Linked DNA regions of Homo sapiens: region 2 is linked to region 1. A link means that fine-mapping ties the variant in region 1 to the expression of a gene that starts in the linked region. Tissue or cell type: whole blood. Region 1 holds a variant in brackets; the other region holds the start of a gene. All regions are shown on one strand. Distances are between the middles of the regions.

Region 1 (12,330 bases):
TATTTATCTTTATATTTTCTATATAACATGCATGTTCTGCTGTTTCTTTTTTAAAAACCTTTTATTTTAGGTCTTATAGGAAGCTTGTGCATTCATTTATTCAACACATAATTATTAAGTACCTAATACATTCTGTACATTGTGCTAGGTTCTGGAAATAAACAGAGAATAGAACAGACATGATTCTTATCCATGGAGAGCTTATATTCTAAAGATGCTAGGAAGTACTTTTAAATAAAACTCTGACTTATATATAAAAACTTCAGAAAAGAAAGGGCCTGCTTTTAAATATTTTTTTTGGTGTTGTCCACTACTTGAACTTCATCAAGTTCATCAGAAAAAATTTAAATGGTATTTCTAAATAAGTGGTTTGCTCCACTCTATCATTAAGCTTGTTAAGATGAATAAAAATCAGAATATTTTCAAATGTATGTAAATACATACATTCAGTGTATTTCCCAGCTTCAGAAAGTCCTAATTTCTGAAAGTCCTTGTTATCAACTCTTGTTTTGAAAGGACCCTTTCTTTAAGATAAAGTGTCACATACATTATTTTGTATTGATACAAATTATTGATGATTATGGATATTTTAGGTAATCAATACTAAGATAATTATGTTAATATGAATTATGATTATAGGGTATTGGTAACAGACAGGAGTGTAGGTGAATGATATGAATTTGCACTGAGTTTGTCATGCCCAGAAAGTTAATCTGAGCCAAATTTCTAAAAAGTGCCTTCCTTATTCCATATTATGTATGAAAGAAGAGCATAGTTTATGTGTGAATATATGGGCAACATGTATATAGATGTCCACATGAACTGCGCCTGGTTAGGTCCTAGAAAAGCCTATGGTGGGAAAGGTGGGTTAAGAGGATTGAAGTTAGGAGTGAACTTGTTATAGTCTTCATAAATATTTTTATAGCCAGTAACATAAAACAATAAAGACAGTGCTCCAAATTAAAGATACAGCAATGACATGACATCTACATTTGAAACTAGTAATAATGGATGCCGGGCCCTATTACTAATTTCTGCTTAGCATTCCTTACTCACCAGAAATGTTTTAGGATCTTAGTTCCTTTGCAGCTTGGGATGCTTGTAAATTCACTTGTTCTTTTATAAATAATGTGCATACAAGGAGATTTTCAACAGCATTTTCTTATCAAAGGTCTGGGCCTATAGTCAAATAGTCAATGCCATCGTGGTTTTACAGCACCCATGAGGAGGTGTTGACGTTCAGGTTTTAGCTTCAGGATTTTGACTTGTGTCTTCTTCCTGCTTGGGTCCTGTCTCTTCCCACCTCCCCAGCTCAGCCTTCATGTACGAATTTTAGATTCTTTTGCCTTCGTATCAGCCAGCAGAAGCTAGTTTTTTGTTTTGTTTTGTTTTTTTCAAGGCCTAGGTTTCCTTTTACTCACATCTTTCTTCAAGCTTTATTTGCAAACACCTCCATTCCTCTTGCCATTACTTTTGCTTCATGTCTATTTCAAAACTCTGTTTCATCTTTTTCTTGTTACTACCAATAGGAGTAAATTGAGTGACTTGCAATTAAGGTACAACAGAAGCAGAATTTTCAAAGTTACTCAAAAGGAATAGGTAGAAAAATTCCCATGGTAAGACAACTCAGTAAATAATTACATACAGGCAGTGACCATATATGCTCATTTTAAGTTACAAATATACACACATGGCCATAAAAATAGTCAGAGACTGAGCTGGAACTCAATCCGTAAACTGATTCCAAACCCCATGTAATTTTTATACACAGTTTATTGCTAGCTTTTTGTCCTTTTATGTTCACTTTTATGTCCTATCTTCTCTATATTCCTAAGTTGCCCACATTTTAAAATCTGCCTGTCTTCTGACTTTTTACCACAAGTGTTTTTTTCTCATCCACTTTTATTATTCTCATTTCCTGTTTTCAAAGAAACAATTGCAACACATTTTAGAAATGCTTACGACATAAGTGGCACACTCCTGAAGTCTTTCCAAAATCTATTTTCCTCCATGTCTTAATTTTTGAAATTTATATACTTAGCTTCTTTCTGCTAATTCCCACAGAAAAACTCAGCACAATTTTATAAGCAATGTGAATGATCTTAGAGCCCTCATAGGAATAAATTGCACAGAATGTTATCAATATATCATAAGTGAGGTACAGGATTAATTTTCTAAGATATCATTTAAAATTTCTTCTATTGTTACTATACACATTTGATTTATTAAGCCAAAACTTCATTCCTCTAAGAATAATAATCCCGTCACAGTTCTAATCCTAGCATAGTGTCGTCTTAACTGCAATGTACTATCCTAACTTTCAATTACATCTTATTTCAGCTTTCTTTATTATACAGTAGCTAAAAATCATTGATAGTTATAAAGACCATAATGCCATAACCTCTCAAATTTAAACAGGATAGAATATTTTATGTTACTAATACAGCAACAGAGGCATTTTCCTCTGTTGGGTAGATGCAATTATTCAGATTCCAAGTGGTTGAGACATTCCATAATTATGTCTCTAATTTTACATTCTACAGGCCTCATTTCCTCTGTCTGATAACTGTCCTCACCCAAGGGTTTCTACAAAGTCACAGTTTGGGTGAATCTGTCATCTCATTTTTTCAAAGAAGGAAATCATCATCAAATAAAATTATACACACCAAATAAATAAATATCAAATAATATATTAATCTACAAATTTGCGACATATTTATTTTCTGACTTTGAGGTTAATTTCGCCACCATTTTTCCTAATCTGTATATCCTATCCCCACTTGCAAACAATGTTTTGCCTGAACCGAGTAATGGCAACATTTATCGTAAGTATATCTTAGCTTCTTCTCCTTATCTGAATGGGGTTCTAGTTCCCTTAGCATTCTCAGATAACATTCTGAATATTCTACTCTGTATATCCAGTTTGTTCATAGACCTCAAAATGCAGACCCTGCATGGATTATTCCCATTCTGCTGTCTGTCTTTATGAAACCTGCCAATACTTATTGCTAGATGAAATTCTACAGATGTTCCATGATGACTTATTGACTCGATAACAGGGATCTGCAAACATTTCTGTAGAGACCCAACTCTGCAGTTGTAGCACAAAAGTAGCCACAGACAATTTATGAGCAAATGAATGCAAGTGTGCTCCAATAAAACTTTATTTACAAAAACAGATGGTAGGCAGGATTTGGCTTATGAGCCGTATTTTGCTGACCTCTGCTCTATAATATTCCTTGAAGAGATACTATTATCCCAATATCCTGACATAAAATATATATCCTTACCATTTGCTGTAGCAATATTCAATTTTTCTTTACCTGGCGTTGCTTATGTTCTCCAGCCAGTTCTGTCTTTTCATTAGGAATCTGAGTTAGGATTTCTTAGAACTATGTATTTGGGTAAGTTTATCAAAGGCCTTTTTATTTTTATTTTTTATTTTATTATTATTATACTTTAAGTTTTAGGGTACATGTGCACAATGTGCAGGTTTGTTACATATGTATACATGTGCCGTGTTGGTGTGCTGCACCCATTAACTCGTCATTTAGCATTAGGTATATCTCCTAATGCTATCCCTCCCCGCTCCTCCCACCCCACAACAGTCCCCGGTATGTGAAATTCCCCTTCCTGTGCCCATGTGTTCTCATTGTTCAATTCCCACCTATGAGTGAGAACATGCAGTGTTTGGTTTTTTGTCCTTGCGATAGTTTGCTGAGAATGATGATTTCCAGCTTCATCCATGTCCCTACAAAGGACATGAACTCATCATTTTTTATGGCTGCATAGTATTCCATGGTGTGTATGTGCCACATTTTCTTAATCCAGTCTATCATTGTTGGACATTTGGGTTGGTGCCAAGTCTTTGCTATTGTGAATAGTGCTGCAATAAACATACATGTGCGTGTGTCTTTATAGCAGCATGACCTTTTAAAGATCTTAGGAGCATAATGCTGTAACCTCTCAAATTTAAACAGGATAGAAGATTTTATACATTACTAATCTGGTTGGGTAGATGCAATTATTCAAATTCCAAGTGGGTGAGACATTCCGTAATTATGTCTCTAATTTTACATTCTCCAGGCCTCATTTCCCTCTCTCATTTCATCAGGTCTTCAAAAGGCTTTTAATAAACTTACCCAAATATATAATTCTAAGAAATCTCAAATTCAGTGCTTGATCAGATCACTGTGTGGTATAGTTTGTATATTTTTCCCCACCCAAATCTCATGTTGAATTGTAATCTCCAATATTGGGGGTGGGGTCTGGTAGGAGGTGACTGGATCATGGGGGTGGATTTCTCATGAATGGTTTAGCACCATTCCTTGGTGCTGTCCTCATGATAATGACTAAGATCTGGTCATTTTAAAGTGTGTGGTCTCTCTCTCTTTCTCTTGCTTGCTCGCTCCTGCTTTCACCATGTGATGTCCCCCACTACTCCTTTGCCTTCCGTCATGATTGAAAGCTCCCTGAGGCTTCACCAGAAGCCTGGCAGATGCCAGCATCAGGCTTCTTGTAAAGCCTGTAGAACTGTGGGCCAGTTAAACCTCTTTTCTTGATAAATTACCCAGTCTCAGTTATTTTTTACAGCAATGCAAGAATGGCCTAACACAATGTGTAATCTTTGTTTCATAGAGTTTACACTACAGCTTTGCCACCTAACTCTCCTATGTTAGTACATAGAATTTCTGAACCTTCAATCCTGTTCAGAATGCCAGATTGTGAGAGAATCAGTTATGCTTCAACCTTGAAAGCATGGAGTTCTCTGCTTTCAGGGAACTCCAGATGACTCAGGAACAGAAGTAAACCCTAGACAAATCTAAAGCCAAACATAGAATAAAGCTGAACAGCAGATCATAAATCCCATTCCTTGCTCCCTAGGAATACCTCTTCTTCTAACTCCAGCTTCAGATTTTTCCCCAGGTTTCACAATTGACCTTTGTCTTAGTGTCCATACTGGTTGGACATACCCCTCTGGCATAGACATTCATGATAGGCATTGCCATTCTTCATGATATGTCATTCTTGGCTACTTCCTCTTTTTCTAGGATGCATGTTTTAGCTCACTTCATGTTCAATTGCCTTGTGGTTGGCCTACTTCTTCTTTCTCTTCTTTCCTACTTTTGTGGTTGCTTTATAGTTGACTAATTACTAGTTCATCGGCTCTGCTTATTGCCTAATACTATAAAAGTTCCCTTCCTGGAAGGGTTGGGGATGGGAAAGTGGGGGTGGGTGGTAGTAAAATTAAC[T/G]AAACTTTGTAGTGGGCTGGAGATAGGGCATGAGTAAAGGAAAAGTTGTATTTTAGGACTGCTCAACTGCATGGATATTTATACTTTTTAAGACAAGCAACATTAACAAAGTCTGGATCTTAAAGTAGAGATCTACACTGGAGATAATAATATCCCTGTGGGCATTTAATGCTCATGGTTACCTAGAAAATAAGTATAAAGTAGGAAATTTTGAGAGAGTATTCTTGTAAAGATTAAATGGTGACACCAATGTAAGGCTTGAATGTTCTAATAAGGGTGAAACTTGGTCTGGGAATGGCAGTTCTTACACCTTTTATAATTCTTAACTGTTATTTTTTAGATCTGGTCATTTAAATCTGAGGACCCAGATATGCTAGTCTTATAGAAAGCACAAATTTAAAATGGGTTCTTTGTCTTACATAGCTCTAAAGTTTAGGAAAAAAGTATCTTCAAGCAACCTTCATAGGAATTCTCCAAAATAAATGTGTTCCTGATTAATATGTGTTTTATTTTTTAAAATTTATTTTTAATTAATTTTTAAATTGACAAAATTGTATGTATTTATGGTATACAACGTGATGTTTTGAAATATGCATACACTGTGGAATGGCTAAAGCAAGCTATTTAGCATACGTGTCATCATCTCACATACCATTTGTTTGTGGTGAGGACATTTAAAATCTACTCTCTTAGCAATTTTCAAATAATGTAATTATTTTAAATCAGTTGTTTAAATATTATGAAATTACTTTCAGCCCTTAGAGAATAGTCCATCTCACATGACACATAAAAATGGAAGGAGGTGTCTAGCTCAGGAGAAACTTTTTGGAATATTTGATTCTCTTTCCCTCATTTTCTCTTCTTTTTTTGTTTTTTAAAAAATAATTTTTAAACCCTGTATTGACTCCTGGCTATTATTTTGAATATGAGTGCTAACAATTTGAGCCTTGTAGATAACTATCCCAATGCCAATTGAACCATAATTTTCATTTGTCTCTTTCTACAAGATTCTGAATTTTTTCAGAAGTGAAATTAAGTCTCAATTCCCTATAATTTACCCAGGGCAATAAATCTTAAACATTTTTTCTTAAAAAAACAAAACAAAACATTTTTACTGGAAAGACTTTATGGGGTGGACATTAACTCTGTAAATGCCATATAACTTTTGGAGAGGGCTGCCCCTGGCACAGTGTAATATTTATGAGAAAGTTGTGCCCATACTAACCACCTGTATGAGAATCGCCTGCGATGCTTTTGTTTAAAAGGCAGATTCTTTTTTCCCTATATTTTTCTCTTTTTAAAAAAATAATTTCGACTTATATTTTATATTTATATTTATATTATTTTAAAAAATAATTTCAACTTATATTTTATATTCAACCTACGTATGCAAGTTTGTCATATGAGTGATATTGCGTGGTGCTGAGGTTTAGGGTACGAATGATCCCATCACCCAGATACTGAGCATAGTACCCAATAGTTGGTTTTTCAACTCCTGTTCCCTCCTTCCCTCCCTGCTCTAGTAGTCCCCAGTGTCTGTTTTTGCCATCTTTATGTCTATGAGTATTTGATGTTTAGCTCCTACTTATAAGTGAGAGCATGGAGTATTTGGTTTTCTGTTCCTGCATTAATTCGCTTAGGATAATGGCCTCCAGCTGCATCCCTGTTGCTACACAGGATGCAGTTTCATTCCTTTTTATGGCTACATGATATTCCACAGTGTGTATATACTACATTTCCTCAATGCAGTCCACCACTGATGGGCACCTAGGTTGATTCCATGTAAAAGAGCATATTGTTAGGCTTTTCTCTGAATTACTGAATCAGAGTCTTTCAATGGGTTCCATGAATATTTCATATTCATTTTAGTAAACTTGCTCAAGTGACTTATGTATACAGTTATAGGTTTGGGAACCTCTGGCCTGGGGAAGTTGTCTGCAACACCACTGACAGGTCCCTGTCCTGCCACAGACATTTCTGCTGTAACTCCATGCTTGCATTTTTTGGGAAAAACAAAGCAAGACAAAACAAAACTCATTTTGCAAAATGACACACAAAATAAAGAGGCTTCTGGAAAAAGTAGGGCTAGGTGAAGAGAATTCAAAACTTACGAAACTATAAACTGAACACCAACAAGAATAACAATGAACCTAATAAAAAACTAGCATAGTTATGGCTCTAACAACATTTATTCTCAACAACTTAGTTAAATCGTTGTACCCTTAAACCTTAACACTTTTTTTTTTTGTTTTTCGAGACCTTGGTTCTTGAGGACATTTTCTTCTAGCAGAAATCAGTATTAACTTCTTTATCCATCTCTCTCTTTTTTTTAAACTGTTATGTACCATCATTATAGCACTTCTTACAAAAATGAGGAGCTGTCTTTGTAACTTCATCTGTGCCATCAGCTTTTCCAGATAGTTTAACATAAAAGGAAGATGAAGTGGTTCTGGAAGCAAGAAAACCAGCCACCACTTGCAGTAAGGAAGGCAGGTCTATGGGCCTATTAGCTCATGGAGGTTTTTGTTTGCTTGTTTGTTTGTTTTTGAGATGGAGTCTCACACAGTCGCCTGGTCTGGAGTGCAGTGGCTCCATCTGAGCTCACGGCAACCTCTCCCTCCCAGGTTCAAGCGATTCTCTAGCCTCAGCCTCCTGAGTAGCTGGGATTACAGGCACCTGCCACCACGCCCGGATAATTTTTTGTATTTTTAGTAGAGACAAGATTTCAGTATGTTGGCCAGGCTGGTCTGGAATGCCTGACCTCGTGATCCACCCGCCTCAGCCTTCCAAAGTGCTGAGATCACAGGCATGAGCCACCGTGCCCGGCCAGATCTTTTTAAATAAGATCTTCATGTGTTATAATACTAAGGTTGTCTCTTTAATCACAAAAAGCCAGTCCTTTATTGCTTCAAATTGTTCATGTGCTGATATCATATGTCTATTGAGGTCTGACTTACTACATTAACACACGCTGGCAGAACCACTGCAGACATTCTCTGTCCTCCTTTTTTTTTTTTGTCACTAACATGATAAAATTCTTAAGGGTTTGAATTCTCAGAGGTACTGTCTGATGGTTAAATCACAGAGGTCCACTGCATTGCTGATAGATTTTTTTTTCACCACAGTGCTGACAATACAATTGTTCAGGAATGGCCTTCATGACCATAAGGTTGGTTTGACCTAGGTTCTTAATTGTGATGTCTCTATAGCTTTTAACTTATTTCAGGATGATTTCCCCCATTGCAAATAGATAATTGTTCAATAGATTTGCTGCAGACTTTTGGACCTGATCTATAGTTTTCCCTTGGGATATGTAAGATATTTGAGGTACACCAAAGTAATGCAAGAAATATCTTTCTTTAGAGCTAGAGTTTAGACAGGAAGTATGTCATAGAACTATGGTGTGTCCTTCCCAAGTGAGGGATTTCATTAGACCTTGACTTAGAATTGAATGTAATGTTAATCTGTAAAGGCTTGTTGTGAGGGTTTTGCTTAAATTTTTAGGTTTATTAAATTTTTAGGTTTATTAAAATTCCTAAATGATGATATTTTTATCAGCAAAGACAAAAATACTGCTACTTAAGTAGTAGTCACTAGAAAAATAATTTATTTTGTTTTGTTACCTTAACTGTCAGATTTAAGCACATTCCTACCAATATTTGGGTTTGGGCTCTGAAACCCAAAACTTTTGAAAGCTTTGGAAAATTTTGTAGAAGTTCTTTCTTCTGTCTTTTTTTTTTTTTTTTTTTTTTGGATACTATTGCCACTGGGATGCAAGCATTCATAAATTATGTTTAAATATAAAAATTAGGTCGGTAACTCTCTGCTCGTGGATTCCTGAAACACAATGTACAAAAACCCAGAATAGATCTTCGTGGCTCACTTTAGAGCGTAACAGCACTGGGAGGTGATCTGACTTTTCATTTTACACGCAAGAAACTGAGGCTGGAGAGAAAGAAGGGTTGTCTGGGTCACAACTGTTGAGGTCAGCCTCTGGGATTGAACTTCATTTCCTGAATTCCTCATGGTTTTCCACCTCCATTCCTCAGCTTCTGTGATCCCTTTGGTATGGGGCTGTTTCTTGAACCTTGAATAGGAGGGTATGGAGGTGAAGTGACATGTGAGCTAATTCTTTTACCTCACTCTGGTTTATCTATTTTTATGTACTAAGGTCCTGTGTATTAATTAATGAGATGAGTTCCACAGTTGCTAATATTAGAAAATCAACACAATTGATTTCTCCTTGGGAACTGTATTAGTTTTCTATTGCTCCTGTAACAAATTACCACAAACTTTGAGGCTTAAAGCAACATGAGTTCATGAATTTATTATCTTAGAGTTTTAAATGTTAGAATTCTGTGAGGAGTGTCACTGGGCTAAAATTGAAGTGTTGGCAGGGCTGCAGGAGGCTCTAGGAGAGAAATCATTTTCTTGCCTTTTTCGGCTTCTAGAGGGGCTTCCCTTCCTCTTACTTCCAAGCCAACAACATGACATCTCTGAGTATTCCTCTTTAACTGCACCAAGGGAAGATAATCTCCTTTTAAAGATTCACACCGTTAGATTGGGTGAACCTGGATAATATAGTCAGCCCTTCCTATGCATGAGTTTTGTAGCTGCTGATAAGGAGGTCATCTGTAAGCAACTTGAACATCTATGGATTTTGGTATCTGCAGGGGATCCTGGAGCCAATCCCCCACAGTTAGTGAGGAATGACCATATAGCATAATTTCCCCATGTTAGTATCCTTAATCTCAAGGTCTCAATCATATCTGTGAAGTCCCTTTTGCTGTGTAAGGTAACATATTCACAGGTTCTGGGGATCAGGATTTAGGATCTTTGGGAGCCATTATTCTGCCTGCTACAGGAATGAATTTGTTTCCACTTGTCTCAACTCTAAGTGGGCAGTTATTTAAAAACTTTGTATTAATTTAGAGAGCTTCATAAAATGCTAAAATTTTCTGAGAACCTAAGTGATAATATAAGAAGAATAGCTACCAACATTTGTTGAGTGCTTGCAATGTGACACACACTGACTGCTATGTGCTTTAATTGCAATATCTTATCTAATCATTTTAGTAGCCCTATGAGATAGGTTCTATTTCATTTACATTTTAGAAAATGTAAAATGAGGCTTAGAGAATTTAAATAATTTGTCCAAGGTCAAACAACTAGCATATGGGAGACTAAGACTTGAAATTGGGTTTGTCTGACCCAGGCTTTTAATCAGCATATTGCACTGTTTATATGTAGCTCTGAAGTGGTAAAATTGTAACATAGTGTAATGCAGTACTGAGAATATAATATCTTAGTAATTTTTAATAAATAAGTGTTTTAGTAAGGAAAATAAGTTGTTATTAGGAATAAACACTTTCTAAATGACATAGTACCCATTGAGCAGTGTTCAACTGATTAATATTAGTTGGTTATATACTGATTTAGTGATCAGTTCTCAAAGCCTCAATTTAAATAGAAAAGGAGTTATGTGGAATTTAAGTGGAAAGGATATAGCTACTTTAACAATTTTTTGTGCTCTCAGATTGTAAAGAGGAAGGATTTATTTTACAAATAAATTGCTTGTGAAAGAAATTTAATTGGTTAATAAAGTCTCTATCTCTTGCCCCCTAACCAGAATGTCAACTCCAGGAGAACAAGGATCTTGGTTTTCATACTCAATTCTATATGTCCAGTACTTAAAACAGTGAGAGCAATGTAACTGATGCACAATGATATTTGTTGAATCAATGGGTACTGACAAATTCCTAAGGGAATAAAGCCAGTTATCTACATGAATAAGGCAGGATCTAGATACTAGCTGCATGCCAGAAGAAGAATATAGAGCGTTCTAATGTGTTTGGCTAGGAACAGACCATATCATGGGCTAATATGATAGAGTAATAAAGGTAGTGATAACCCTGATAAATTCAATATGTTTTTACATAAATCCTGTGCATTAAACTAGTAGCTCACTTGATATGGAGTGTTTGAATCACAGATTGACTTTGCTCATTCGTTCTTCCATTCAGTCAACATTATTGAGCACTGTGCTAGTTATTAGGATAAAAGATGCATTAAAAGAATAAAGCCCCTAACTTCCAGGAGCCTCTGTCTCCTAAGTGAAACAAACATGTGTAAAGATAAAATACCTTATATTAAATGGAATAATAATGGTTTTATAGAAACATGGAAGAGGGATACTTAACTTATTATTCAAAAGAGACACTTATTCGAAAGACATAAATTGAGTTTAGTCATCTTGAGTTTTAGAAGAAATAATTTTTGATTTATGGAGGGATTGCAAATATAGGACAGAGAGTTCTCCTATACCCTTTATTCAGCTCGTTTAATAATACATAGCTTTGCTATATTGATCAAAACTAAGAAATTAACATTGGTACAATACTATTAGCTAAACTGCAGACCTTACTTGGATTGAACCATCTTACAGCCTTTTGTGCTAAAGGGAAATTGTGTATGAAAGTGCTTTGTAAACAGTAGGCTAAATAGTGGTAGTCTAAGAAGTGCCATCTGGTGAGCCCAGGGTAGGTCACTGAGGGTGAAAGTTGCATTCTCTGAAGGGAGCTTTAAATAATCTAACCATGAACTCTATTTTATTTTATTTTATTTTATTTTGTTTTGTTTTATTTATTTTTGAGACAGGGTCTTGCTCTGTCACCCAGACTGGAGTGCAGTGGCATGGTTTCAGTTCACTGAAGCCTAAACCTCCTGGGCTCAAGTGCTCTGCCCATCTCAGCCTCCGGAGTAGCTGGGACCATAGGCACATGCCACCACACCTGGGTAATTTTTGTATTTTTTGTAAAGATGATGTTTTACCATGTTGCCCAGGCTGGTCTCAAACTCCTGGGCTCAAGTGATCTGCCTACCTCAGCCTCCCAAAGGGCTGGGATTACAGGCGTGAGACACGGCGCCCAGCCTGAGCTCTCTATATTTTAGTTTCCTTTAATAACATGATCAGTTCCACCCATGAATTTAATTAATTCCTTATGAGTTTGCTATTAAAATAAAATGAGCGGTTATTGATGCTTATTGTGTGTGTGACAGTATCCTATTCAAAGTATGG
Region 2 (12,330 bases), 29 kb before region 1:
ATACATGCCTGGGCCAGGTACAGAATATGATGGGTCCGTGTTTCACTCCATACAGCCCTGTTATCATGATGACATTATGAAGTAATTTCCTATATACTATAATCTGTTTTGGAAATGCTTTCTACCAGGTGTCTCTTATGGAACATACAGGAAAAAAAAAAAAAGAGTTGACCTATTAAATTACTCTCGCTGTTCAAATATTTGAAGTACTAATTCATCACTCATGACATTCAATTTATATTTTAACATCATTATAAATTTAACAGGGTTGAATCTTTCAAAATAACAAAGAAAGTGCCTTTTGAAAGGAAAGAAGATAGGAACGTTGAAGAGGTTCTTGTGGGATCACTCTTAAAAGCCATCAAAGCATCTGAATCTCTCTCTTGGCTGTATAATAAATATTCACAGAAAATGACCGCCAAGTATGTATGGAGAAATGCCTTGGCATTTGCTGTATGAATATGGATGATGGGAATATAGTAAAATATTAGAGAGATTAAATCGAAACTCAAAGATAGTTCTAAGGTGTTTACTGGGTGTCACTTGATGAAATGACTCTATGGGGATTTATCACTAATCTGTGAAGTGAAAAATAATCTTAATGACGAGAGGAAGCTTACCTACATTATGCCTAGGACAAGAAGTTTTTAATTCCCCTCTAACAATGCAGTGTTTGCAGGTTTTCATCCATTATCACTTTGTTAGAGTATCTTTGCTAAAACCCAACTATTTTATAGGCTCCTCTGACACCTCACAAGAATCCAAGGGAGGAAATGAAGCCAATGAATGTAATCTACAGGTGAAATTTGCAGAGCAAATTCAGGAAAAAAAAGTAATTATGCTTCTTCGCATTTTATCATTTTATAACCTCACCTTTTAGAGAAGGTATTGAGAGATTATACTGATTAGTCCAGATTTTTATTTTACATATTTGTTCATGGAAAGGCTTATTTTAACAGAAGTTATATCAAGGTGTCATGCCCAGTACCATCATCATCATCATCAAAAATTTGACTGAATAAACCTAAGTACACACACACTTCTGTATGTATAGTCTTACATATGAAAGTAATATTTATTCATTCACCAAAAAGTGTAAAGAGAGGTTAAAACAGGATGGGATGAAACAGTGTACAAAGGTAAGGAAAAGCTTTTCCAAGCAACTGAATTTCCCTTGAAGCCTGAATGTTAAGTGGAATTAGGCAAAGTGTGGTGGTTGTGGGAAAATTCAGGCAGAGGATATAGCTAGTGCAAAGGCTCTAAGGCTGCAAAGGATGCAAGCTATGCAGGCATGGTGCAAGGAGGCCTTTGTGCAGGAAGCAAAGGGAGATAAGGCTGGGGTGACCCACAGCCTCCTTCTTCAAGGGCACTGGATAGACTCCTGGGAAGCAAAAAGTGACTGGATTAAATTTGCATTTCAAAAAGACTCTTCTGACTACAGTATGTGGCAAGATAATTGGGTGAAGCAATAGTCCAGGTGGAAAGCTTTATTACAGTCAAAACAAAAAAGGATGAAGACTTGGATTGGGGTGGTACTTAGTGAAGAGGCATAAAAGAAGACTGAAGTCAAAATGACAGGACTTGGGGATGGGTGGGCCACAGAAAGAAGGTGTCAAAATGATTGTCACAGTAGGTAATTAGTCATTGATTGATAGAAAATGGTAATCACTGAACTAGGCTTTTTATCTTCATTCTGTTCTATTTAGGTTCATTCTATCCAAAGTATTTAGTGCTTACCAGATGCAAAGTACAGTTAGGAATTCTAATGGATAGAAATATAAAATAAATGGATACAAGGTTATATAATCTCTGCCTTTTATAGGCTTATATTCAAATACAGACAATGCTTTCCATTTCCAGTAAAGGGAATGAGAAATTATATACCCAGATACATATATATTGACACACAAATAAACAGATGTATACACATGTATGTCTACATATGTATATATGTATGTACACATATGCATATATAAGTATATATATATTTGCATCATATACACATCTAAATTAAGGGTGCATTGCCAGGGGACTGAGGAGGATAAATAATGCAGAGGTCAGAAAAAATAACTGAAAAGTTGTGTGGGATGGTATTCTTCTTATAAGAAATTCAAATGTTTTCAAAAATGATTGTCTTATATATCTGCCTTATTACAGAAGAAATGTATGACGTTGGCCCTGTTTATCAGGGCCAGAAGAAGAAATTCAGCAATAGTATTTAGCAGTATTAACAATTTTAATCCATGATATCAGTCATGACACTACAATCCTGACAGTAATCTTATTAATAGTAATGATAAATAATAGTAATCATTAGTATGTAGTAATTTTTAAAAGTCACACAAGCAGAAAAACATAAACATAGATTTGATTTTAATGTTGTTTGAACATTGCCTTTTAGCATTTTTCTTTGAATTCTAAGCTCATAATTTTATCATAAAACTGTCTTTACAGCAGACAATGACTAATTAGTAATTCTATTAAATATTTGCCAAATGGAGGGTACCACTTCTAGTTTTGCCAGAGTGTCTTGCTGGTCAGAAGTGCTTTGCCTAATAAACTCAACATGCATGTTGATGCTAAGAGTCTAACTGAACACACAGGACAATCGCAAATCTGTGAATTATTAAGCCTCCTTTCACCTCAATTTCCTCCCTCATAGGATGGTCTTTGCTTATCTCAGTTTTGTGTGTATTCCTTTTGATTGCTTGTTAATGTCTCCTATTTATAGTGATATTATGTAACAGTATTATTTAATCTCCAAAATAGTATACAATTGTCAAGTACCATTGCTGTAATTATGGTGCAGATGTTGGAATATGCTTGGAATCACTAAAAGTGAATTTACCATAAGCTAAGGAAGCTTACTCTTCAGGGACTCTGACTTGCAAGAGCCTATTTAATTTCTTATTACCTAAATTTGTAAGTTTAATTTTGCAGTATTTTTCTTTTAAAAGATCCCCCAAATTTTATGAGCTTCATTTCCAGAAAACTCATCTGGCCTTGTTTTTCATATTGTATTGTCATATTTAATTTGTTTTTATGCCTTTCTCACAATATTTTAGGTTCATGAGATCAGAGACAGTATTTTATTTGTTTCTCTACTGCCTAGCTTATTATTTATTTATTTATTTATTTATTTATTTATTTATTTATTTATTGTTATGAGACAGGGTCTCACTGTCACCCAGGCTGGAGTGCAGTGGCACATTTATGGCTTACTGCAGCCTCAACCTCCCAGGGCTCAGGTGATCCTCCCACCTCAACCTCCCAGTAGCTGGGACTACAGGGGAGCACCACTACACCTGGCTAATTTTTGTATCTTTTTTTTTTTTTTTTTTTTTTTTGTAGAGACAGGATTTCCTCATGTTGCCCAGGCTGGTCTTGAACTCCTGGGCTCAAGCAATCCACTCATCTCAGCCTCTGAAAGTGTAAGAATTACAGGCATGAGCCACCATGCCCGGCCTGTCTATCACTTAGTTCAGTAAATGCTTGGTGAATGAATGAATCATATACATTTAGTGGTTGTTTTGAAGTTGACTCTGCTGAGTGAGATTTTCTTTGCATTCATGCATCTTCATTAATGTCAACTTTGTTGCAGTTTTTAAAAAAGTAATCTTTGTTTACATTATCTTAAGTTACTTGATTTAAAAAAGTTAAAAGTGACTATTTGCAGAATTCTAAAGTCCCATTACTGTCAACATGCATAATATTTTGCCAAAAATGCAATTTGTCTTGTTAGTCTTCTTTAATTTTTCCATGTTTTAAAACTTTTCTTGGAGTATTTCCCAAATGGGATTTACTGAGAGGATATATTCAGCCAGCTTTGTAGATTCTAAGAGTCCTTCTAAAAGTTAAGTCTAGCCAAGGAAAAATGTAGTGGCACACGATTGCGTTTCTCTTACGCTGTCATTTAATGTGAGATCTAAATTTTGCATTTCTTTAATGCCCAAGGTGTTTATTTTTTAAAATCTGTACTCTTTTTATCAGGAGTTATGTTGACAATTTACCTGGGAGCTGATATACCCTATATAATACATGATCTAAGACCTGAACAATACACAAATTAATAAAATTAAACCATTAAGATATGTCATCATTTCTAAATTATACAATTGGGTTTTTTTTTTAAAGCAAAAATATTCTTCCTCTTTTCTCCATCCCTTGTTCTGGTCAGTTCCAAGGTTTTTTACAAATGCAAAAGAAATTCATTTGCTACTCCTGACCACAGAGATGAATAATTTAAGGACAATATCAAATTCTTGATAAATCTCATAAATGTTTTAACTGTCCAAGAAATGGACATTTATTTGGTTAATCTTTTAGCTGGCCATAAATAATGTAATAAAACCCCTTAAAATTAACATTAAATAACATAAAGACCTAACGATTTTTAGAAAAAAACCTTTTTGGACTGAGCCTTGAATTTCCTGAGAATTCAGCTACAAGTGATAACTAAAATGTAACTCGAGAATCTGGATATGGTTCCAGAAAGGATTGTTGTCATGCAATTGCCATTTCATCATCTTTCCTTAAAGTCCCTTCAATATTTATCATTGCAATTTTTGTCCTGTCTTTTCCCCTCCATCACATCAAACCAAGGAAAAACAATTATTAAATGCTCATTTATACTCACCTCCCTCCCTTCATATTCATTCATTCCTCAGCCCTAAAATTCCTGTAGGAATCCTGCTTTTACGTTTTATCTTAAAGCCACCATAGTATCTGTAATCTCTTTTGTAGTCATGTATGCTTAATTTTGGAAGACTGTCAACTACCTCTTCAGGTTCATTCAAATGAAAATGTATCACAAAATCGTAGGCTCTTCCCCTATCTCACTGAAAAATTACTCTAAAAATGACCAGTAAGCTGTTTTGTTGAAGCAAAACATCCAGACCCTAAACAAAAGTAGCAGAATTACAACATTTCCATAGAAATGGATTTTGAGCTTCTTTTTTTTAATTGGGGAAAATCTTATTTTTTAAAAAAGAATCCCAGAATACATCTTTGCTTTCAGTCCTTCAATTCTAACATAATGCCATGTTAGAGAATATGTGGTAGTGTATACTAAGCCCTTATGCTGTCTCACATCCTTGGGACAAAATATCTGTTTTGAAAGGACTTCTCTGAATTTTGCTATTTCCTGCTTACTGAGCAGTGGCCCCCTCCTGGGAAAACAGAGTTATTTCAGCCAGTGTTCAGACTCCATCTTGCATACGTCTCTGTGGAATATTAATAGTGCTACTGAGATATATTCATCATCTTTTCTCTGCTTTTGCTGTCTTTATAGCCCAGTGAAATTTATATTTGGTGTTTGTAGGAAGGCTATCAGAAGCTACTTGGACATCAAACTTTTAAACTATAAATAATGATGGCAAGACTGCTAGGATATCTTTCCACAGTTAAACCCATTCAACAGAGTTTCGTTCTTATGACAGTGCAAATTAAACTAGAATAAAATTAGTGTGATTTTAGGACAGTTTTAAAGTGAACATATTTCCCTCCCTCCCTTCCCATCTACATATCAAGGAGACACTCCAGACTGCACTTTTATTTAAATTGCGGCCATCAGAAAATACCGTGAGAAGGTAGTGTGTAGGTAATGGTTCAGTTAGCATTGACCCCAGAAAATGGAAAACCAAGAGCAAGTCACTTTTAAAGTGAAGCAATAGATTTTGAATATGGATTGTTCCAACTCACCACTTCCCGACCACAACACAAGAGTATTTCACTGTAAATTAAGAGTCTAAGTTAACCACAGCTGTGGTATAACTCTGAGAATGTTTTCTCTACATGTAGACAATTCTGGATCCTTCCGTGGTGCCCGTTACCCTGGTCTTTAACTTTTGTCCTTTGCAGGGGAGGGGTCAATGCCTTCTTATTTCCTTGCTCTTTAGAATTCTCCACCAGAGGGAGGACAAGGGAAGGAGTAGGTTTCACGCGCAGTTCTGAGTAAAGTTTGAATCTGAGAAACCCCACATTCACGAATTAAGGATCTCCAGTTCTGTGTCTTTATTCTACCCCTCCCTGCCTGCTTTTCCACTCGGCAGAACTGAGTGACTTTCAGCGGCTGCAGTAATTTTAATTATTCTGAGTCGTGCTCCGAACTATGTTTTTTATCAGTTCCTCTGAAAATTAAGTTGTAGTAAGAGACGTAGTTTAAGGGCACCCCCTTAGAAGAGGCCAGGTTATTTTTTAAGGAAAAGCTGAAGATTTCTAACAGGCACTTACTAAACACACACACACACACACACACACACACACACACACGCACACGGCGCAGACCCAGCAGGAGAGCGCAACCTAGCATCTTTAAGGTTCGCTTAGCCCTTCCTGTGCACCTGGAAGGAAGCCTTATCTTAAACTCCCTTCCACCTAGAGTTTATTTTCGCCTGCGTGCGACAGGGCTTTTGTACTTAAGTGAGTTAAGGAATGAACCCCGAACTCTTCTGGGAAAGCCACCAACGTTCCCCCCGCACCCCTCCCAGGGTTCCTGACCACGGAGACTCTGCTTGGGGCACAGGTGTGGGAGTCGCAAACTTTTCTCTGCGCCGTCCTTTTCCGCGTGGAATGGGACGGAGCAGCCCTCCCAGGCGCTGCCTGGCTGCGGAGGGGAGCGGGCAGCGAGAGCCTCGGGTCTCCGCCTGGGTTCCCGGGTCTCCGGGGCGCTGGCCTCGGTCTCCGCGCAGCGTCCAGCGACCCCTGTCGGGGGTTCCCGGCAGCCGCGCCGCCACCCCCCGCCCGGCCAGCGCGGGAGGAAAAGGGGCTGCGCCCGGGAGCGCCGAGCCCAGGCTCCTCCCGGTGGCGTGTCCGCGCCTCGGGGTGGGGGTGTGGTGGGGAAGAGGGAGGGGGCGAGGCCAGGGGAGGGTGCGAAGGAGGCGCCTGCCTCCAACCTGCGGGCGGGAGGTGGGTGGCTGCGGGGCAATTGAAAAAGAGCCGGCGAGGAGTTCCCCGAAACTTGTTGGAACTCCGGGCTCGCGCGGAGGCCAGGAGCTGAGCGGCGGCGGCTGCCGGACGATGGGAGCGTGAGCAGGACGGTGATAACCTCTCCCCGATCGGGTTGCGAGGGCGCCGGGCAGAGGCCAGGACGCGAGCCGCCAGCGGTGGGACCCATCGACGACTTCCCGGGGCGACAGGAGCAGCCCCGAGAGCCAGGGCGAGCGCCCGTTCCAGGTGGCCGGACCGCCCGCCGCGTCCGCGCCGCGCTCCCTGCAGGCAACGGGAGACGCCCCCGCGCAGCGCGAGCGCCTCAGCGCGGCCGCTCGCTCTCCCCCTCGAGGGACAAACTTTTCCCAAACCCGATCCGAGCCCTTGGACCAAACTCGCCTGCGCCGAGAGCCGTCCGCGTAGAGCGCTCCGTCTCCGGCGAGATGTCCGAGCGCAAAGAAGGCAGAGGCAAAGGGAAGGGCAAGAAGAAGGAGCGAGGCTCCGGCAAGAAGCCGGAGTCCGCGGCGGGCAGCCAGAGCCCAGGTGGGTGCGCAGCGCGGCCCGGGCCCCACGATCCTCCTCCTGCTCCTCCTACTCCTCCTCCTCCTCGGATGCCGTGGCCTCTCCCTCCCCCTCTCCCTCGCCCGTCCTCTTCGCCCTGCGCTCTGAGCGCCCGTTGAGTCGCGCGGTGCTTCCCCTCCTGGGGGCCGCCGCTCACCTGGGCGCCGAGTCCTACCGGGCGCCTACGCCCAGAGCTCAGGGCAAGGGACAGCAGTCCCGGCCGCACCCTCCCAGAGTCCCGGGAGCGCTTCGCTCCCTGGCACGGCCCCTCCCCAGCGCCTTAGCGGCTGAGCCCAGCCCGGGAGTGGGACCTGGGCTATAGGAGTCGAGGCTGCGTGCGCGCGTGCCCCGCGCCATAAGCGCTTTGCACGGGGGCCGTGTGCCCTCTAGCGGGAAACGCTGGAATGGGCCGCCTGGAGGGAGAGCCGGTCCCCTCGGTGTGCCTGGCAGCGCAGAAGTGGGTGGTCGAGCAAGAGGCCGCGTGGGAAGTTAGCTTCGGCGTTTTGGGGCACAGGGCAAGCGATGTAGAGTGCGCGCCGGTTCATCTTGATTCAGTCCTGTGCTACGGAGACTCAAGAGCAGCGGCAGGGATTCCTAAAGGTCAGCGAAGCAGATGAAATCTAGTCCAGTGTCAGGAATCAGCTCTGCCCCAAACAAGTTCTACAAACTTTTGGCTTAACAGTTCTATTTTTCAAGACCTCTGTGATAAATATGGATAATTTACTTTCCCAAGAGATGTAAGAAAACAACCGTTTATCTGAATTTTTGAACCCAATTGTTTGCTGGTTATCTATATAATAAAATGGCAATTGAAGCTTTCTAGAAACAAATCTTGTATTTCATCATCAGAACACGAGCATGAACAAAAGCTTTACCTTAGATGTCCCTAGGAAGCGCTGATGCTTTGGACATTACCTTGGACAAAAGAGGCATGTCGAATAAATACTTGTTTATGAGTGATTGGTAGGTAGCTGATAAAAGAGGGGAGGAAGGAGATGGGGGAGAATTTATTTTTTGCCTCTGCAATTCCCAATTATTAATTGATCCAGATGCCTTAAGTCGCTTCGAGCGTACCCCCAACACACATTTCATGAAGCACTTCTGCAGAATTAATTCACTAGTACTTGATAATACTGTGGCTACAGTAATACTGTAGAAGTATTTGTCCCTTGCTGGAAGAAAACAAACCACATTTGCTTGGTCTTCTTACTGGTATCACTGATAGCATTTCAGAACCTGGGTTATTGGCAGAGACCTTCAGCAGAGTTTTGAGCAAAACAGAAATTGAACAGAGAGTAATTGTTTCACCACTGGCCATTCTTGTGCTTGCTTCTTTAATAAGATCCTGCTGATCATATTCACTTCAATTACTGATCATTGCCCCTCATGAGGGTGTATTGAATTTTCCCTTATTTTTACCCTATATTTTGGGGAGAGACCATAGCACTTTATTCAACAAGATAGGAAATTGGGGAGCTGGATTAGTTACCTCCCTGCGTGACTTTGTCTACTGTCCTTTCTAAGGTCATCATAGTACATTACGGAGATTTCAGACCTAGCTCAAATCGTTGTAAAGAGTTATTTTGGGGGCTCTTATCACTGTTTGTGGTTGTGTTCTCCTGTCTCCCTGCTCATTGGCTTCAGAAGAAGTTTCTGTGGTCCTCTGTAGATGGTCTAATGAATTAAGAAGGGGCCAGCGGTCTGAAGTAGCATCCTGTTCAGGTAATAGGTGTGCATTTTGTCAAGGGCTCCCAGCAGCAGTACCGTAACACAGCAACTTGACAAGTTCAGTGGGGGAGGGGCAGGCATTTCTGTGCCCTCCAGATCTCATCTACTAGGTAGGCAGCTGTCTTGTGATTAGCTACGCTCTCTTGACACAGAGCACCAGAGCTTCCTTGGTGGCTCTCATCTGCTTTCCAGTGGTACAGCAGTGATTCCCTGTAAACCAGCTAAGTCAGTATCTTTAAGTGACATTTGCTTAACTGTCTTCCCTGAAAAATTGGGGTGAATTTGGCTGTAGGTTAGTTTTTAGTATATTTGTCTCTGTTTTCCACCAGATTATAATCTTTTTTGGGGAGGGACTTTTTACCCCCTTCGAAGCATCTTGTGCTTTTTAAACCAGATAAGAATATGTATTCTTTATTTGATTCAGAAAGAATGGTCAACAACTTGAAACCAGCTTTATATAGAAGCACATGGCATTAAATACAATGCTTCAGAATCAGTGTTTCTTTCCTTCTTTGTCATTTTCCTTATAATGGTAAGTGCCAGTGTAGTTTTCCTTGTCTTAGGAGAATTCATACCTGATGACTATAATGGTTTGTGAGAAAAACCCACACTCTAGGTTTCAGGCATTCCCAAAGGAACGACCTATAGATGCCATAACTCTAGTATTCACACTTGCCGTGCCAGCCCAAATTAGGACTTAGGAGGACAAGTTTCTCTTGTATTGCTCCCATCTTAGTGCCTGTCAGTTCCAAGTTTCACTCCTTTCTTAAAACAGCCACTGCAACTGTCTGTCCTTGATGATATGTATGCAATAGCCAAGCCTCTCTTCAGCTGTTTTAACATTGCCTCATGACAGTCAGGGGAGAGATAATGGGGTGGGATCTCAGCCACTCAGCCCCGCTGTGTGCTATATTGTACGCATAGGCATAAACACATCTGTTGGAGGGAAATTTTCAGGGGGAAAAGGCTTCTTTAACTTTCATATGGCATGAGTGACTGATATGCGATACATACATGGCTATTTCAGAGCATCTGCACTTTTATACAATTAACTAAATGTTGAATTGCACACTATTGGGGCTGCAGATGTTCAACACAATTATCTATTCCATAATAATAGCTCTAATAGGTCCCAAGCCCTTGGAGTCATTGATTCCTTTTCTTTGCTCAAAATAAGCAAGCTAAGAATAGTCTTGGGTGCTGTATCACTGATCCACGTACCAAGAGCCCTGTAACAGCCTGGGTCTCCTTGGTGCTGGACCTCCCATATCCAGCCTCTTCATACTGATTCAGCTCAACAGACTTTTTCTCTTGAAGCCTGAATTACAAAACCAGAGCTTTTTTTTTTTTTTTTTTTTGACGGAGTCTCGCTCTGTCGCCAGGCTGGAGTGCAGTGGGTGCAATCTCGGCTCACTGCAACCTCTGCCTCCTGGGTTCAAGTGATTCCCCTGCCTCAGACTTTTGAGTAGCTGGGACTACAGGTGTGCGCCACCATGCCCAGCTAATTTTTGTATTTTTAGTAGAGACAGGGTTTCACCATGTTGGCCAGGATGGTGTCGATCTCTTGACCTCGCAATCCACATGCCTCGGCCTCCCAAAGTGCTGGGATTACGGGCATGAGCCACGGCGCTTGGCCGCTTTTTTTTTTTTTTTTTTTAATTTTTGGCCAATTGGTATTTGACTCTAAGCTTCCTTTGTGATTCTCTGTCGATATGTTGTTCTTACTCTGCACCTCTGCACGGAATTCTGTCTTTTTTCTTTTTCCTCTTAAATAACCTGGGAAAAATTCACTATCATGCCTAGCCAGATTCTAGAACTATCCTGTCTCCCTTCACTCCTGGTAGGAGGGGCATTTGTGAGTCTGGGTGATGGAAACATTGAGAAACCTAGTATCCCAAATAGGTAGAAGCAGGCTGTGTGTTTCCCCAATGACATCACCCACCTGTTTCCCTCACTAAGTGGCTCTGCAGGCTGAAGTGCTTGTAAACATTCTTGCGTATAAAGTACCCTGACCCTAACGGGGCAGCCTGTGTTTACAGAACAAGAGGAATGTCCAGTGATCTGTTTCAACCTGGTTACTTGTAACCACCTAGCCTATGTAATTATTAAAAACATTAAAGATTATTCACAGAATGAAATAGGACTTATTTTGCAGAATTAAAATAGCAGGAAGAGCGGAAGAAAGTTGTATATTCAGACATGAATACTTCTCATACCCATGAAATGGTCAGATAACACTAATGAAAAAGAGGAGAAAAAATATATATAGAGAACCAAAAAATATTAGACAAACATGAACACTGAATACCTACTACATGCCAGGCACTGTGCTGGACACTTTTATGTTTATTAATGAGGGACCTGCTATTTATTGAATTCTTACCATGTTCCAGGCAGTAAAACAGATGTATATTGTGTATTTTGTCATCCGTCCTTTCGAAAATAAGAAAATTCCTTGCTATTAGGCAGCAAGATGCCAGATGGCCTAGTCCTTAGCTCTTCAGCCAGATTGCCTGGGTTTAAATCCTAATTAGGCTGTTCCTTAAATATGTAGTCATGGGAAAGTTACTTAATCTTTCTGTGCCTAAATTTCCTTTTTCTGCAATATGGGGATAATAATACTATTATTATTATCATGAGGGTTTCATGAAGCTTAAAGGAAATAATCCATGAAAAGCACTCTGAACATCAACCAACATGTAATAAGTGCCCAGTAATATTAGCTGTCTTTATAAAACTACTTAAGAAATGAATTATCTGTGTCTTTGCAAAGATATTTGATATAATTTCCAAAATTTACCTTTTATGGTAAAAAATATCCAAAGCTGACCTCAGATTACAGTGGTTATAAATATTAATATGTACTACCTGTAAAACTAGAGAAAAGTGGATAAGAGTGTCAAATTCCATAACTGCATATATACATTATGAAAACAGTACTGAACTCAATCTAAATATTGAAAGTAGAGTGAGGTGCAACATAATTTTATCTCTGGCAGAAAAATGTTGAGGTTTCAAGCTATGAGAAGATTTTGAAACATGACTCTTTTTTCTGGCAACACTTAAGAGTTGATGCTTAAACCTCACTTTATTGTATAGAATACATAATCTTCT

The links. PIP is the estimated chance that this variant, and not a neighbour inherited with it, causes the effect.
Region 2: NRG1 starts here. The variant in region 1 is fine-mapped to the expression of NRG1 in whole blood (INTERVAL, PIP above 0.99). The same link has a PIP of 0.9 or more in blood mononuclear cells and monocytes.

Annotation. Positions count from the first base shown.
Region 1 is chr8:32,570,214-32,582,543 of GRCh38, forward strand. All of the region lies in intron 1 of NRG1 (neuregulin 1), which reads left to right. Among named protein-coding and RNA genes, the nearest start is that of NRG1, 28 kb to the left of the region's middle. The variant T/G (reference allele first, on the strand shown) is at 5,253.
Region 2 is chr8:32,541,357-32,553,686 of GRCh38, forward strand. NRG1 (neuregulin 1) reads left to right here and starts at 6,955. Exons shown (of 12, transcript NM_013964.5): 1 at 6,955-7,470. The coding sequence starts at 7,371.